Homo sapiens: one gene and its partner. The protein of the gene in region 2 interacts with the protein of the main gene of each other region in a biochemical or structural test. Each region holds a gene or a part of one and is shown on either strand. Other genes may lie near its edges.

Region 1 (8,601 bases), on a different chromosome or scaffold from region 2:
TGCAGCCTTGGTCCTGTAGGCCTCCTTGGGGGGCGGGCTTGAGGATGGTGGGGTAGTCTGGACCCCACCAGGATCTGCATACTGGGCAGAAGAGCCTCCTTGGGCATGGTCCCCTGGCTTCAAGCCTGTCTTCCTCCCACTCTCTTTCCCCAGGAGTAGCCGGTGGGGCCCATTTACAAAAGCAAGTCAGAGTATGCTCCTCCTTGGCTCATCCTCCTGTAATGCCTCCCTGCCTCTCTGAGTAAAAGCCCAAGTCCTCATGAGAGTCTGCTGCTCCTCTGCCCTCAGTCCCTCACTGCACTGGGGCGGCACGGGCTGCCTTGCTATGTTTGGATTGTACCAAGTGCCCCCCTGCTCAGGCCCTTGCACTGCCCATTCTCTCCTCTCACCTTCCTGCCCCTCCTCTGATGTTTCTTGTGACTGAGGCCTTACTTGGCCATCTGGACCAACTGGAGACCATTGCTTCCCCTCCATACCTCTTACCATCTTCATTTGTTCCTGAGGCACACAGATGTTGGTTATTATCCATCTCTTCAGTCAAGGCAGGGCCTGTGCTCCTTTTACCATTGTATCCTGGCATCTAGAAAACTCCATAAATGTTTGTCAAATGAAGGAATGAAATGAAGAAGAGATGCCTACCCACAAGCATTTACTGCAGCCTTAATGAGAACCCTCCAAACCAGAAAGGGCTTTAGTGTCCAGTACAAGGCAGCAAGTGGGAAATGGGGGACCTTCATCCTCAAGAGTGTCCTTAGCAGGTAGTTTGTGTGACAACTGTGTAGCAATAAGCAGAAACATTTTTGCTGCAGTATGACAAAGAAATAGGATACAAATTTGTCTCACACTAGTCTTAACTTTATAAAGACTGCCTGAGTACAAAGAAAGATGGCCTCCTGCGGCACGTGGGGCAAGTAAGGAGGGGGGGGGGGCGGTATCACAATCACCACCAGCTTCTAGGCTCCTGGCTTCCTGGCTGCATGGCCTCAGACACAGCCTTTGAGCCACTAGGCTTTGTTGCCATCTGTGAAATGGAGGTGAGAGAGCACCCACTGGTGCAGACTAAGTGAGACCGTTCAGGGGGCACCCAGCACAGGCTGGGCATGACGGGGCACTGGGCTCCTGTCAGTTTGCCCTTCTTCCCAAGGGCTGGGTAGTGATATGCCAGCTGGTAGTGTTAGGTGGTGCAATGGCCAGTGAATTTGTTTTCTATTTGATTGTATGGCTTTTGCAACAAAGAAATGGCAGGGGCCAGGTGCAGTGGCTCACACCTGTAATCCCAGCACTTTGGGAGGCTGAGGTGGGAAGATCACTTGAGGCCAGGCATTCAAGACGAGCCTGGGCAGGAAAGCAAGACTTCGTTTCTATTTTTTTTTTTTTTTTTTTGAGATGGAGTCTTGCTCTGTCACCCAGGCTGGTGTTCAGTGGCGCCATCTTGGCTCACTGCAACCTCTGCCTCCCGGGTTCAAGCGATTCTGCCGCAGCCTCCCGAGTAGCTGGGATTACAGGCGCCTGCCACCATGCCAGGCTAATTTTTTTGTATTTTTAGTAGAGATGGGGTTTCACCATGTTGGCCAGGCTGGTCTCAATCTCCTGACCTCAAGTGATCCGCCCGCCTAGGCTTCCCAAAGTGCTGGGATTACAGGCGTGAGCCACCGAGCCCAGCCCATTGTCTCTATTTCTTTTTTTTAAGAAGTGGCAGGAAGATCAGAGAGAAGCAAAGGGCCTCTCCTGAGGCACGGGCAAGCACTTGCATTGCAGGGTACAGCTGCAGAGGAAGGGGATTGGGACGTGTGAATAGGGGTTCTGGAGGCTAGGGTGAGGTGTGAGGGTGACTCTGGCCTTTGGGCCATTTCATGCCTTCATGTCAGCTGCTGGTTGGGCTCCTGGTGGCCACATTCATGCTTTGGTCCTGACCCCAGGCAGGCTGGTGTCTGCCTGTGTGGCAGCCCTGGTGCCCATATCAGTTGGGGAGCCTCCTTTGTGGTCACCACTCTTGTTCTTGGGCATCAGCTGGTTGCCTGGCTGTGTTAGTGACCCAGCCCACAACAGCCCCCTACTCTACCCTGGCTACATGCAGTGCCCATCTCTGGGGTCACTGCAGAGTAGACCTGGCTAATGCCACCCTCTCTTCCGGCTGCCTTTCAGGAAGACCATGCTCAATGACCTCCTGCGGTTCGATGTGAAAGACTGCTCCTGGTGCAGGTGGGTGGCCCCGTGCTCCAGGGCCCTGCCTTTCCTCCTAGAACACAGTGGCACAGTGCTGGGTCCCAGTTGCTAGCAGAGTCTCTCTCATCATGGGAAGCTAGAAAGAAGCTTCCAGGAGGAGATAACCACGGCCTCAGGGATGCCACATCCAGAGCCGCCCTGTCAGGCTGAGGAGATCAAGTAACCACCCCGCACCTGCAGCTGCCAAGCTGGGCACACAGGGCGGCACCCTTCTGGGCTGTCCACCTCTACCTCGAGGCTGATGCTAGTATGGGTACAGAAGTTGCTATGTCTTTTCTCTCACACTTGATTTTGTAAGATGGCTAGTAGTTACAAATTAATTTAAAAAATCATTCTGAAGGCTTCACAATTATTTGTCAAAAATTGCTTAAGTATAAAACTCAGAAAAAAGCTAGGAGTTCAAGACCAGCTGGGCAACAAAGTGAGACCCTGTCTAGGAAGATAGATAGACAGATGATAGATAGATAGATAGATAGATAGATAGATAGATAGATAGAAAGAAAGATAGATAGATGATAGAAAGACAAAGAGAGATGATAGATAGATGATAGGTAGATTAGACAGATAGATGACAGATAGATAGATAGTGGATAGATGATAGATGACAGATCGATAGATAGATGATAGGTAGATGATAGGTAGGTAGATTAGATAGATGATGGGTAGATAGATGACAGACAATAGATGATAGATGATAGGTAGATAGATGATAGATGACAGATAGATGATGGATAGATTATATAGGTAGATGATAGGTGGATAGATGATGGATATATAGATTATATAGATTAGATGATTGATAGATGATAGGTAGATAGATAGATGATGGTTAGATAGATAGGTATTAAATGAAATTGATGGACCCCGTGCTGTAAGATGCTGCACTGCTGCTGAGAGCAGGAGTGTGGATGGTCCTGGAGTAGCATGAGGACCTGGTCACATTCTGTGAGTGGAATAAGCAATTTACAAAATATCTGCCACTTGATTCCATTTTAAAAAATTTCATGGAAGCCTAAGTATGCGTAGGAGAGGTGTGCAGGGAAGACCTCAAGGTGTTGCCAGAGGTTTTCTGGTAATGGGAATTTGCATGAGCTTTAGTGCCTATTTTGTTTTTTCCTTATTGGTGATTTTTTTTTTTTAAGTTTCTATGATGAGACAGGTATCACCTTCAAAATACAAAAGTGAAACGTAGCTGGGCGCGGTGGCTCACGCCTGTAATCCCAGCACTTTGGGAGGCTGAGGTGGGCGGATCACCTGAGGTCAGAACTTCAAGACCAGCCTGGCCAACATGGTGAAACCCCGTCTCTACAAAAATACAAAAAATTAGCTGGGCATGATGGTGGGTGCCTGTAATCCCAGCTACTCAGGAGGCTGAGGCAGGACAATCGCTTGAACCCAGGAGGTGGAGGTTGAGCCGGGATCGTGCCACTGCACTCCAGCCGGGACGACAGAGAGAGACTCCGTCTCAAAAAAAAAAAAAAAGAAAAAAGAAAGGCAGCACAGGGATGCAGGGCCACCCTGTGGGGGTGTGGACCTCATGGGTGACCCCCGCTGACTCTCACCACCCCTGTGCCCACCCCAGGGCCTTTACCACTGGGACCCCACCGGCCCCCCGTTACCACCACTCGGCCGTCGTCTATGGGAGCAGCATGTTTGTCTTTGGTAAGCAGCCTCTTGCCTCCCAGGGGCTGTGTCGCCCCGAGGCCCACAGACACCCTGCCCTTCTGCAGGCCTGGGGCATTTGTGCTCGTGCTGTGTACAGCAGGGGCTCTCTCTCCACCCGTGGCTTTGTCTGCCAGTCTTCGGAATTCTGCGCTGGATCTGGGACCCCTTGCCCTAACGGCCCTGAGCTCACAGGGTTGGGTGTCTTTCTGTGTTACTGAGCTGTGGCTGGGAACAGTGTCCTGCTCATCTCTGTGTCCCCAGAGCCCAGCACAGAGGCAGACAGGCAGCAGGTCGTTCCGGGGCTTGTGGAAGGAGTCCTGGCTTATGCATTTTCAGGGGGGCCAGATTCTGCTCCACCTTCCAGGGTTTGAAATCTCCAAGACTGCCCTTTGGGTTTGACAGTTTCTCACTCTCTTTACTCAGGGGGTTACACTGGGGACATTTATTCCAATTCTAACTTGAAGAATAAAAACGACCTCTTTGAATACAAGTTTGCAACTGGCCAGTGGACGGAGTGGAAAATTGAAGGACGGTGAGAAACTTTGCAGAAACATTTGGGACAGGCTGGGTCCTGGGTGGCATTGGACCTGGGATCTGCCCCCTTTTGCCTCCCAGATGAGGACCCTGAGGGCACGCAATAGCAGGGAGCTTGGGATTGGTGGAATATCCCCCGGTGCAGCTATGCATGGCCTGCTCCCAGCCCTTAGACTCCCTCCTTTCAGAAGAGACCCAAATGGACCAGGCGTGGTGGCGCATGCCTGTAGTCCTAGTACTTTGGGAAGCCGAGGTGGGAAGATCACTTGAGCCCATGACTTCAAGGCTGCAGTGAACCATGTGTGCCCCACTGCACTCCAGCCTGGGAGACAGAACAAGACCTTGTCACAAAAAAATGTTCAATAAGATCCAATGTACTGCTGATGGCGCTTCTGGGGTCCCGCTTTTTGAGCACCCCCTTTGATATTTTGGGGGCACCTAGGAGAAGGTTCTGTGCCTCTGTGGCTGTCTGAATTCCTCTTCAAGCCACTAGTCGGCCTCTGGGGCTGTTGTTTATTCCTAGTGCCTTGTGGAGGTCCTGAAGCCCCAGTGTCGGGTGGATGTAGCCATGCAGCCTGGCTGTGGCCCCTGCACTGACCACATGGGGCTGGGTGGCTCAGGTCTGTGCTGGGCGGCCTCACTCCCTCCCCTCTTCCCTCACACTCCAGGTTGCCAGTCGCTAGGTCAGCCCATGGGGCCACGGTGTACAGTGACAAGCTGTGGATCTTTGCTGGCTATGACGGCAACGCCAGGTGGGTGGTGGTCCGGCCTGTGCACCCCACCTCCGACAGCACTGAGACCCGGAGCAGGCCGTCCTGGCATTTGAGGGCTTAGGCTGGGAGGATTTTGAGTGCCTGGTGGATTTTGAGTGCCACTCTGTCTGGGGGTTTCTTGGGAGGGGGATGGGGAAAGAGGAGGATGGACAGATGGAGGTGAGGGCCACTGGGTGGAGCCCCGTGGCTACCAGAGTAGCTTGGATGAGGATCCTCAGCCAGGAGTTGCCCTGCGGAGCTGAGTTGGTGGGCGGGTGGGCGGTGCCCAGGCTCAGGCCCAGCCCTGGTTCTTGCCCAGGCCAAAGGCCTTTTCCTCCTTATTTTAGAAAGTTGGCTTTGCTCTCTTTTTCTGATCACAAAAGTAGCATATGCTGGTTTCCCAAAACTTCAGCATCATAGAAACTCCTAACGATGCAGTGATGGTGGCATCTGGGATATCTGTGTCCTCTCCCCACCCAGGAGGGACACTGAGTGAGGAGCTGGCACTGCCACACTGCCCTGATGTCATGCATGAGAGTACTTGTTCTGTCTGGGCCGGGCAGGGGGCCTGGCACAGCAGGGATTTGAGGCAGTGGCTGCCACCCCACACAGAAGTTCCCGCCTCATGGCCGCACAAGTCTCCTACCCTGTGTGGGGGTGGGGCTCCTCCCTGCAGCCATCCCTTCCAGCCAGGACTAGGCCCACCCTGACCACCAGACCCAAGGGGTCCTCACTGGTCTGTCCTAATACAGGTTGAATGACATGTGGACAATTGGCCTCCAGGACCGAGAGCTCACCTGCTGGGAGGAGGTGAGGGGCGTGGGGAGCCAGGGCGCAGGTAGAGGAGGTGAGGGGCACGGGGAGCCAGGGCGCAGGTGGAGGAGGTGAGGGGCATGGGGAGACAGGGTGCAGGTGGAGGGAGGTGGGAGGCAGGGGGAGCCAGGCTGGGGGTCGAGGCTGCTTTCTTCCCCTTGCAAAGCCCAGCCTCGACCTGAGCCTCGCTCTCCTCCCTGGTGACCTGCGGGCCTTCACGACCAGTTCCTCACTGTGGCTGCACAGTGATTCGAGGTTTGGTGCTTTGGATGGGCAGAGTGCCACGTGTGTGAGGATGTGGTTTTGCTTTAACGCACCCTTTATTTCAGTGCAGTGAGGGCCGTCTGCTATCCAGTGTCCTGCTCCCTGGAGCTCCCCCTGGGCTTGCTTTCCCCTTTAGAAACATGGAATTTATTTATTTATTCATTAAAAAAAATTGTTTTTCAGTCTTCTGGGCATGAAAAACATGAGTTTAGCCCCTGATGATTTAACCCTGACGATTTTAACCCCAGCTGTTCACAACTGGGCCCCGTGAAGTGGATGAGACAGGGCTATGAGCTGTTCCAAGACAAAGGAATCTGTGAATCCTCATCTGGGGAAGTTTCAAGAATAAAAGCAGTCCCATCTCAGCAGTCTCGAGTGTGGTGAAATGTGAGCGGGCCCTGTGAGGCCGGGGCTGAGCTGTCCTCTCCCCCTGCAGGTGGCCCAGAGTGGCGAGATCCCCCCATCTTGCTGCAACTTCCCCGTGGCTGTGTGCCGGGACAAGATGTTTGTATTCTCTGGGCAAAGCGGAGCCAAAATAACCAACAACCTCTTCCAGTTTGAATTCAAGGACAAGACGTGAGTACTCTGGCCAGTGGGGTGGAGGGAGGACGGTCAGTTCCCTCGAATCCTTCTGAATATGAAGAACGCCTCTTGCACCTGGTGGCCATGGTAACCATCCTTGTGAGCTCTGCAAACAGCAGGAGGTTACAGCCCGGAGCAGGGATGTGCGGTGCCCCTGGCAGGTCCCCAGGATATGGCTACAGCTTAGCAAGATAAGGCCTGGCGAGGAGGCCCCTGGCTAGGCCTCCCTCTGAACGTGAAGGACGTCCCCTTCCTCGTGAATAGCTTGGTCAGTGCCACCAGTAACAGACGTGGCCTGCATAGATCTCAAATAATGGCAGAAGACCAGAGGGGCCTGCAGGTCCTGAGAGGTCTGGCCCATGCTGCCCCTGGCTGCTGGCCAGCCCTTGATCCCTGCAATGGGGCTGCAGGAGAGGGCACAAGGAGTGTGAGCTGCAGGTACAGGGGGTTTGGGAAGGGACTTGGGAGCTTCCCTGGAGGCCACGGGTGCGTGGGAGGAAGGGCAGGGAGCCCCAGGATGAGGGAAATTGTCAAGGGCCTGGGGCTCAGCATGGAGCCAGATGGCATAGCCCTGCCAGGCCAGGATCTGTTCTGAAGTCTTCAGCTAACTTAGCAAAAGAGAGGACTTGCTGGGAGGTACTGGGAAGCCTGGGAGGTGGAAGGTGCTGGGGCAGCATCAGGATGTGGGGTACAGGCAGCTCCCAGGATGGGGACTCAGCTGTGGGGATGCTCTGACTGGGCAGCGTGAACACAGTGACCTGCAATGGTCTCTGCACAACTTTACTCCCCAGAGAGCAGGACTGCCTGGGCGGGTCAGATGCCACCCTCCTGCCCATCACTGCTGCCTGCTCCATGGGGAGAGGGGGGAGCTCTGGCAGGACCCTGCGGTGGGCCACATGGAGCCAGGCAGGGCTGGTGCCCGTGCTGGATGGGGTGAGAGGTGCTCAGCGCAGGTGTCTAGGCCCTCCCTCTGGACCCTGGGCTAGTCACCGTAAGGGATGCAGGGGGACCTCCCAGTGAAGGCCTGCTGTGGGGAGGCCCCGAGGGTGAGCAGGAGCCCCTGTCCCAGCATTGATTCACTGTTGTGTACCCCCAGGTGGACACGCATCCCAACTGAACACCTGCTCCGGGGCTCCCCACCACCCCCGCAGCGGCGCTACGGGCATACCATGGTGGCCTTTGACCGCCACCTCTATGTGTTTGGGGGTGCGGCCGACAACACGCTGCCCAACGAGCTGCACTGCTATGACGTGGACTTCCAGACCTGGGAGGTCGTCCAGCCCAGCTCCGACAGCGAGGTGAGGGTGCCCAGGGGTGTCCTGACCTGCCAGCTGGACACCAGTAGCTCCTACCCTGCTCCCACCCAGCTCCTCACAGCTTTGGGGCCCCCTGGGGTTCCAGACAGCTACCAGGAGCAAGGCCAGGACACCTGGGCCTCAGCCCTGGACACCTGCCCCGGCCTCCAGCCCCAGCTTCACCCCACAGCCTGCAGGTAGTTAACGCTTCACACCCCATCATGGCTGCATGGGGCTGCTGTGCTGCAGACCTTTCCTGGGAAGCCCACGGCCATGCAGCTCTTCCTTCTTTCAGAACCCACTCTCAAGGCCAGGATGGTGGGGGTCTCTGGGCACCTACCTGGCCCTTGCCAACTGGTCTCATGCCCATGTGTCTCCCCTCTTCAGGTTGGTGGGGCTGAAGTGCCCGAGCGAGCCTGTGCTTCCGAGGAGGTGCCCACCCTGACCTATGAGGAGCGGGTTGGCTTCAA
Region 2 (7,000 bases):
ATTTAGCTGGGGCCAGGAGCGGTGGCTCACGCCTGTAATCCCAACACTTTGGGAGGCTGAGGCAGGTGGATCACTTGAGGTCTGGGGTTCGAGACCAACCTGGTCAACATGGCAAAACCCTGTCTCCACTTAAAAAAAACTAGCTGGGCATGGTGTTGGGCACCTGTAATCCCAGTTACTCGTGAGGCTGAGGCAGGAGAATCGCTTAAACCTGGGAGGCGGAGGTTACAGTGAGCCAAGATCGCGGCACTGCACTCCAGGTGTCACACTCCAGCCTGGGTGACAGAGCCAGACTCTGTCTCAAAAAAAGAAAAAAAAATTAGTTGGATGTGGTGGTATACACCTGTGGTCCCAGCTACTCAGGAGGCTAAGGTAAGAGGATCACTTGAGCCCAGGAGGTCAAGGCTGCGGTAAGCCATGTTTGCGCCACTGCACTCCAGCCTCAGTGACAGAGCAAGACCCTGTCTCAAGAAAAAAAAAAGTTGGGTGCGGTGGCTCATGCCTGTAATCCCAGCACTTTGGGAGGCTGAAGCAGGCAGGCAGATCACCTGAGGTCAGGAGTTCAAGACCAGCATGGCCAACACGGTGAAACCCCATCTCTACTAAAATAAGAAAGAAACACTAAACAATACAACCATGAAACTGATCACCGGGATTGCAAATCTAATTGGGAAAAGAGTTGAGCAAACAGCTTGGACTGTTTGGAGTTGTTGCCTTACTTTTTAATATGTATTTATAAAGTATTCCAGCAAAAGAGGATGTAGCCTCTGGGAAAAAACAAACATGTTACAGTGTTTTTTGTAGATTCTCGTTCTATATCTCATCACAGTGCCAGCCCTGTTTTTAGCCGGAAAGGATTCAGGAGAAACATTATTATGCATTCTGAACTGGATGCATATTCCTAACTACTGTATTTGTTACCAAAAGTGGTTCTACAAATGCTACTGAAAAAAATCTGGAAATTCCTAATGTCCTGAGTATTAATAATAAAGTTTAAAAATGCTTTTATATCAAAAAAAAAAAAAAGAAAAGAAAAATTAGCTGGGCATGGTGGCAGGCGCCTGTAATCCCAGCTACTTGGGAGGCTGAGGCAGGAGAATTGCTTGAACCCAGGAGGCAGAGGTTGCAGTGAGCCAACATCATGCCACTGCACTCCAGCCTGGGTGATAAGAGTGAAACTCTGTCTAAAAAACAACACAAAACAAAAAAACGCTGGGTGTGGTGGCTCACATCTATAATCCCAGCACTTTGGGAGGCCAAGGTAGGTGGATCACCTGATGTCAGGACTTCAAGACCAGCCCGGCCAACATGGTGAAACCCCGTCTCTACTAAAATACAAAAATTAGCTGGATGTGGTGGCAGGCACATGTAATCCTAGCTACTCAGGAGGCTGAGGCAGGAGAATCGCTTGAACTCAGGAGTCAGAGAGGTTGCAGTGAGCCTAGATTGCGCCACTGCACTCCAGCCTGGGCAACAGAGTGAGACTCTGTCTCAAAACAACAAAATTAAAATAAAAATTAAAAAAAAAGAAAGCTGGGCGCGGTGGCTCACGCCTGTAATCCCAGCACTTTGGGAGGCCGAGGTGGGAAGATCATGAGGTCAGGAGTTTGAGACCAGCCTGACCAACATGGTGAAACCCCGTCTCTACTTAAAAATACAAAAATTAGGCCGGGCGCGGTGGCTCATGCCTGTAATCCCAGCACTTTGGGAGGCCGAGGCAGGCTGATCACGAGGTCAGGAGATCGAGACCATCCTGGCTAACACGGTGAAACCCCATCTCACTAAAAATACAAAAAATTAGCCAGGCATGGTGGCGGACACCTGTAGTCCCAGCTACTCGGGAGGCTGAGGCAGAAGAATGGCATGAACCTGGGAGGCAGAGCTTGCAGTGAGCAGAGATCGTGCCACTGCACGCCAGCCTGGGCGACAGACAAGACTCCGTCTCAAAAAAAAATTAGCCGGGCGTGGTGGCATGCGCCTGTAATCCCAGCTACTCAGGAGGCTAAGGCAGGAGACTCACTTGAACCCAGGAGGAGGAGGTTGCAGTGAGCCGAGATTGTGCCACTGCACTCCAGCCAAGGCAACAGAGTGAGACTCTGTCTCAAAAAAAAAAAAAAAAAAAAAAGAAAGAAACACAAAGGGAGGGAAAGAGATATATGCTTACACTAAAATATTGAAAACTATTAGGAGCCCATAATTGATACATCTAATTATGGATATGCCATAATTTCTACTTTTGGACAGCTAGATTGTTTCTCATTTTCTTCTACCATAAATAGTCTTGCAATGAACATGTTATATATAAATCCCTATAAATTTTTTCCAATGGAGATTAACAGAGAAGCATTATGAATTTGACTACTATCAAACTACTTCCAGCCAGGCGCTGTGGCTCACACTTGTAATCCCAACACTTTGGGAGGCCAAGGCAGGAGGATCACTTGAGTCCAGGTGTTCAAGATCAGCCTGGGCAACATAGTGAGATCCTGTCTCCACAAAAAGTAAAAACAATTAGCTGGGAGTGGTGGCACACGCCTGTGGTCCCAGCTACCCTCAAAGCTGAACTGGGATGATTGCTTGAGCTGGGGAGGTAGAGGCTGCAGTAAGCTGTAGCCCCAACCTCACTGCAACCTCCACCTCCCCAGGTCAAGGGATCCTCCCACCTCAGCCTCCCAACTAGCTGGGACCACATGTGCATGCACCACTATGCCCAGCTATGTTTTTTTGTATTTTTTGTAGAGATGGGGTTTCGCCATGTTGCTCAGGCTGGTCTCAAACTCCTGACCTTAAGCAACCTGCCCACCTTGGCCCCGCAAAGTACTGGTGTGAGCCACCTCACCCAGCCTGATTTTCTATTTTAAGGCAAAAAAATCTGTAAGCCAAGCCAAGAATCTGTAAGCCAAGAAACAAAAATGACTAATTGTATAAGATTATAGACAGTATTTTCTTCTCTATCCTCACCTGTCTTAGCTGTTTGAGGTCTGACTTGTTTCCCACAAGAACCACAGGTGTATCGTCAGTACGTCGGACTCGATAAATAAGCTGTTTAAACTCACGAACTTCATGGAAACTTCGACGATCCGTGATAGAGTAACAGATGATAAACCCTTCTCCTGCCCTCATATACTGGTCCCGCATGGCTGTAAACTCTGCCTAGAGGGAAACAAGGGTCATTATGTATTGACGCAATCTAGCCCAACTACACACACAATTAGCTATTTCTTTCAGATTAAAGAAAACGCATGTCGATTACCTGCTATCCTGAGTCAGAGTGCATGAAAAATTAAGAGAGATAAACTATTGATCTTCTCTGTGTAGGCCTTCCCCTCCCCTTTGCTAGAGTAAAAAAGCCTTTACTCATAACATTCTGGGATTTAATACCTGTCCAGCTGTATCCAAAATGTCCAGATTGGCAGGCTCATCATCAATACGGATCCTGATCTTATAAGCATCTTCTACAGGAGGGAAGAAAGGTGTACTATAAAGTCATAAATGCCGGAAGAAATGCCTATTTAAAACTCATCTTACAGAGTAGTACATTGTATCCAAATTCATTAAATGCCCACATTTTCTCAGGAAGCATGCTAAATCCACTGAGATACATAAACTGAGTCTTCAACTGAAGTTTTTTTTTCCACATAGGTGATGATGTAGTTTATTCACAGCTGAAGATTTCACCTACAATTCTAAGCTAAAAAAGGATTCTGAGAAGATGTCTTTCTTAAAAAAATTAGGCTATCTGGGCACAGTGGTGACTGCCTATAATCCCAGCTACTTGGGAGACTGAGACAGGAGTATTGTTTGAGCCCAGGAGTTCAAGACCAGCCTGGGCAACACAGCAACAGCTCATCTTTTTTTTTTTTTCTTGAGACAGGGTCTCACTGTCACCCAGGCTGGAGTGCAGTGGTGCAATTTCGGTTCACTGTAGCCTTGACTTCCCAGGCTCCAGTGATTCTCCCACCTTGGCCTCCCAAGTAGCTGGAACTACAGGCGTGCTACCACCATGTCTGGCTAATTTTTTTGTATTTTTGGTAGACATAGGATTTTGCAATGTTGTCCAGGCTAGTCTCGAACTCCTGGGTTGAAACAATCCTCCTGCCTTGGCCTCCCAAAGTGCTGGTATTACAGGTGTGGGCCACTGCACTCAGCCGAGACCCCATCTCTTAGGGGAAAAAAAAAATTAGGCCTGAAAAGTAACTTTACCATTTATTAAATTGTTATTATCTACCAGACATTATACTAAGTAACTTATATATATTAATTCTTCAATAATCACAATAATCCAATGAAGTAGGCATTATTACCTCCATTTTACAGCTAAAGAAAATTCAACTTGAAAATATTAATGTCTTCTCTAAATTAGTTAATTAGTGACAGAATGAGGATTAAAATCCAAGATTGCTGAACTGAAAAGCATTATTAACCATGTGTTATACTTCCTCCTCAATACTACAAAAAAGGAAAAAAATATATAATTCACTATTTTTTTTTTTTTTGAGACAGGCTCTCACTCTATCACCCAGACTGGAGTGCAGTGGCATGATCTCGGCTCACCACAACTTCTGCCTCCCAGGCTCAAGGGATTCTCCTGCCTCAGCCTCCTGAGTAGCTGGGATTACAGGCACATGCCACTATTGCCCGGCTAATTTTTGTATTTTTAGTATAGACAGGGTTTCACCATGTTGGCCAGGCTGGTCTTGAACGCCTGACCTCAAATGATCCACCTGCCTCAGCCTCCCAAAGTGTTGGGATTACAGGCGTGAGCCACTGCACCCGGTCTAACTGACTATTTTCTAAATAATCCACAGTTTCGTAATTTCTCTTTTCTGAAAGCAAATTTCTTTATGCATATTACTATAGTAACCTTGGAAAATATAGAAAACTAAAAAGAAAAAAAAAGCCACGCAATATTTCATTCACTTAACAACTGCTGCTTACATCTCAATGTATTTCCTTTTAACATTTTTTCTTGAATTCCTGCTTCTGTCTCTTCCTCAAAGATGAAGAGCTCATTAAATCAATGCTTCTCAATTATTCATTAGGATTAGTGAGTTGTGAAATCTACTTAATGGGCCGGGACCAGCATTAAAATAAACAAGCAGAAACCTAAATAAAAATAGAAAATACCAGGCCAGGCACAGTGGTTCATGCCTGTAATCCCAGCACTTTGGGAGGCTGAGGCGGGTGGATCACCTGAGGTCAGGAGTTCAAGACCAGCCTGGCTAATGTGGTGAAACCCCATCTCTACTAAAAATACAAAAATTATCTGGATGTGGTCACAGGCGCCTGTAATCCCAGCTACTTGGGAGGCTGAGGCAGGAGAATCGCTTGAACTGGGAGGTGGAGGTTGCAGTGAGCCAAGATTGTGCCACTGGACTCTAGCCTGGGCAACAGGAGTGAAATTCTCCGTCTCAAAAAAAAAAAAAAAAAAAAAAGAAAAAAAGAAAAAAAAAGAAAGAAAATACCAGAGTGGGTGAGGTACAGTGGCTCTCACGCCTGTAATCTCAGTGCTTTGGGAGGTCCAGGTGGGAGGATCACTTGCGCTCAGGAGTTTGAGACCAGCCTGGGCAATAGAGCGAGACCTCATCTCTACTAAAAATCCAAAAATATTAGCTGGGCTTAGTGGCCTACGCCTGCAGTCCCAGGTATTTGGTAGGGTGAGGCGGGAGGATCACCTGAACCCAGGAGGTCCAGGCTGCAGTGAGCCAAGATCACAACACTGCACTCCAGCATGGGCAACAGAGTGAGACCCTGTCTCAAAAAAAAAGAAAAGAAAAGAAAATATCAGAGTGCACCAGATGTAGTGAGGTAAAGTTTCATAATATTTTAGCTACACATACACATGCGCTTGTGTATATAATTTATATATACATATGCACACATTCATATGCTTTTTTTTTTTTTTTTTGAGGCAAAGTCTCACTCTGTCGCTCAGGGCGGAGTGCAGTGGTGCAATCTCGGCTCACTGCAACCTCTGCCTTCTGGGTTCAAGGAATTCTCCCACCTCAGCTTCCTGAGTAGCTGGGATTACAGGCATGCAGCAGTAACACGCCCAGCTAATTTTTGTATTTTCAGTAGAGATGGGGTTTTACCATGTTGGCCAGGCTGGTCTTGAACTCCTGACCTCAGGTGCCTTGGCCTCCTAAAGTGCTTCGATTACAGGATTGCAGGCTCAGGATTACAGGCGTAAGCCTCCGCACCCGGCCTTGTATGCTTTTATATCTCTACCAGTTACAATGTAAAGTTTTTCTGAGTTTACAGCCAGAGCTTGAAATCAAATGCACTAAATTAGAAACTCAAGAACAGAAACCTCATCTTTTTGATCACCACTGTACCCTGAGGGTAAGCAGTGCTTGGCACATAATAGAAACTCAGAAGACATAAGTATTTGCTGTTGAATCAGATAATATTGCCAGGAGAGTAGTTAACTGGAGGAAAATTGATTAAAACAGATAACTTGGCCGGATGCGGTGGCTCACGCCTGTAATCCCAGCACTTTGGGAGGCCGAGGCGGACGGATCACAAGGTCAGGAGATCGAGACCATCCTGGCTAACACGGTGAAACCCCGTCTCTACTAAAAATACAAAAAATTAGCCAGGCGAGGTGGCGGGTGCCTGTAGTCCCAGCTACGCTGGAGCCTGAGGCAGGAGAATGGCATGAACCCCGGGGGGGCGGAGCCTGCAGTGAGCCGAGATCATGCCACTGCACTCTAGCCTGGGCGACAGTGAGACTCCATCTAAAAAAAAAAAACAAAAAAAAAAATACAGATAACTCTTACAGGAGACGAGTATTTGAGTTTTACTTTAAAGAAAGGGAAAGACGCGGCCGGGCACGGTGGCTCACGCCTGTAATCCCAGCACTTTGGGAGGCCAAGGCAGACAGATCACGAGGTCAGGAGATCGAGACCATCCTGGCTAACACAGTGAAACCCTGTCTCTACTAAAGGTACAAAAAATTAGCCGGGCGTGGTGATGGGCCCCTGTAGTCCCAGCTACTCAG

The links.
Region 1: the proteins of RIT1 (region 2) and LZTR1 form a complex in vitro, tested with the Homo sapiens proteins (one study listed by BioGRID).

The regions. Positions count from the first base shown.
Region 1 is NC_000022.11:20,983,696-20,992,296, forward strand, and holds part of LZTR1 (leucine-zipper-like transcriptional regulator 1), read left to right. Parts: intron 1-2,145; coding exon 2,146-2,202; intron 2,203-3,808; coding exon 3,809-3,888; intron 3,889-4,314; coding exon 4,315-4,423; intron 4,424-5,093; coding exon 5,094-5,177; intron 5,178-5,929; coding exon 5,930-5,987; intron 5,988-6,690; coding exon 6,691-6,830; intron 6,831-7,932; coding exon 7,933-8,134; intron 8,135-8,518; coding exon 8,519-8,601. UniProt on the Homo sapiens protein: Substrate-specific adapter of a BCR (BTB-CUL3-RBX1) E3 ubiquitin-protein ligase complex that mediates ubiquitination of Ras (K-Ras/KRAS, N-Ras/NRAS and H-Ras/HRAS).
Region 2 is NC_000001.11:155,901,350-155,908,349, forward strand, and holds part of RIT1 (GTP-binding protein Rit1), read right to left. Parts: intron 3,456-7,000; coding exon 3,382-3,455; intron 3,154-3,381; coding exon 2,962-3,153; intron 1-2,961.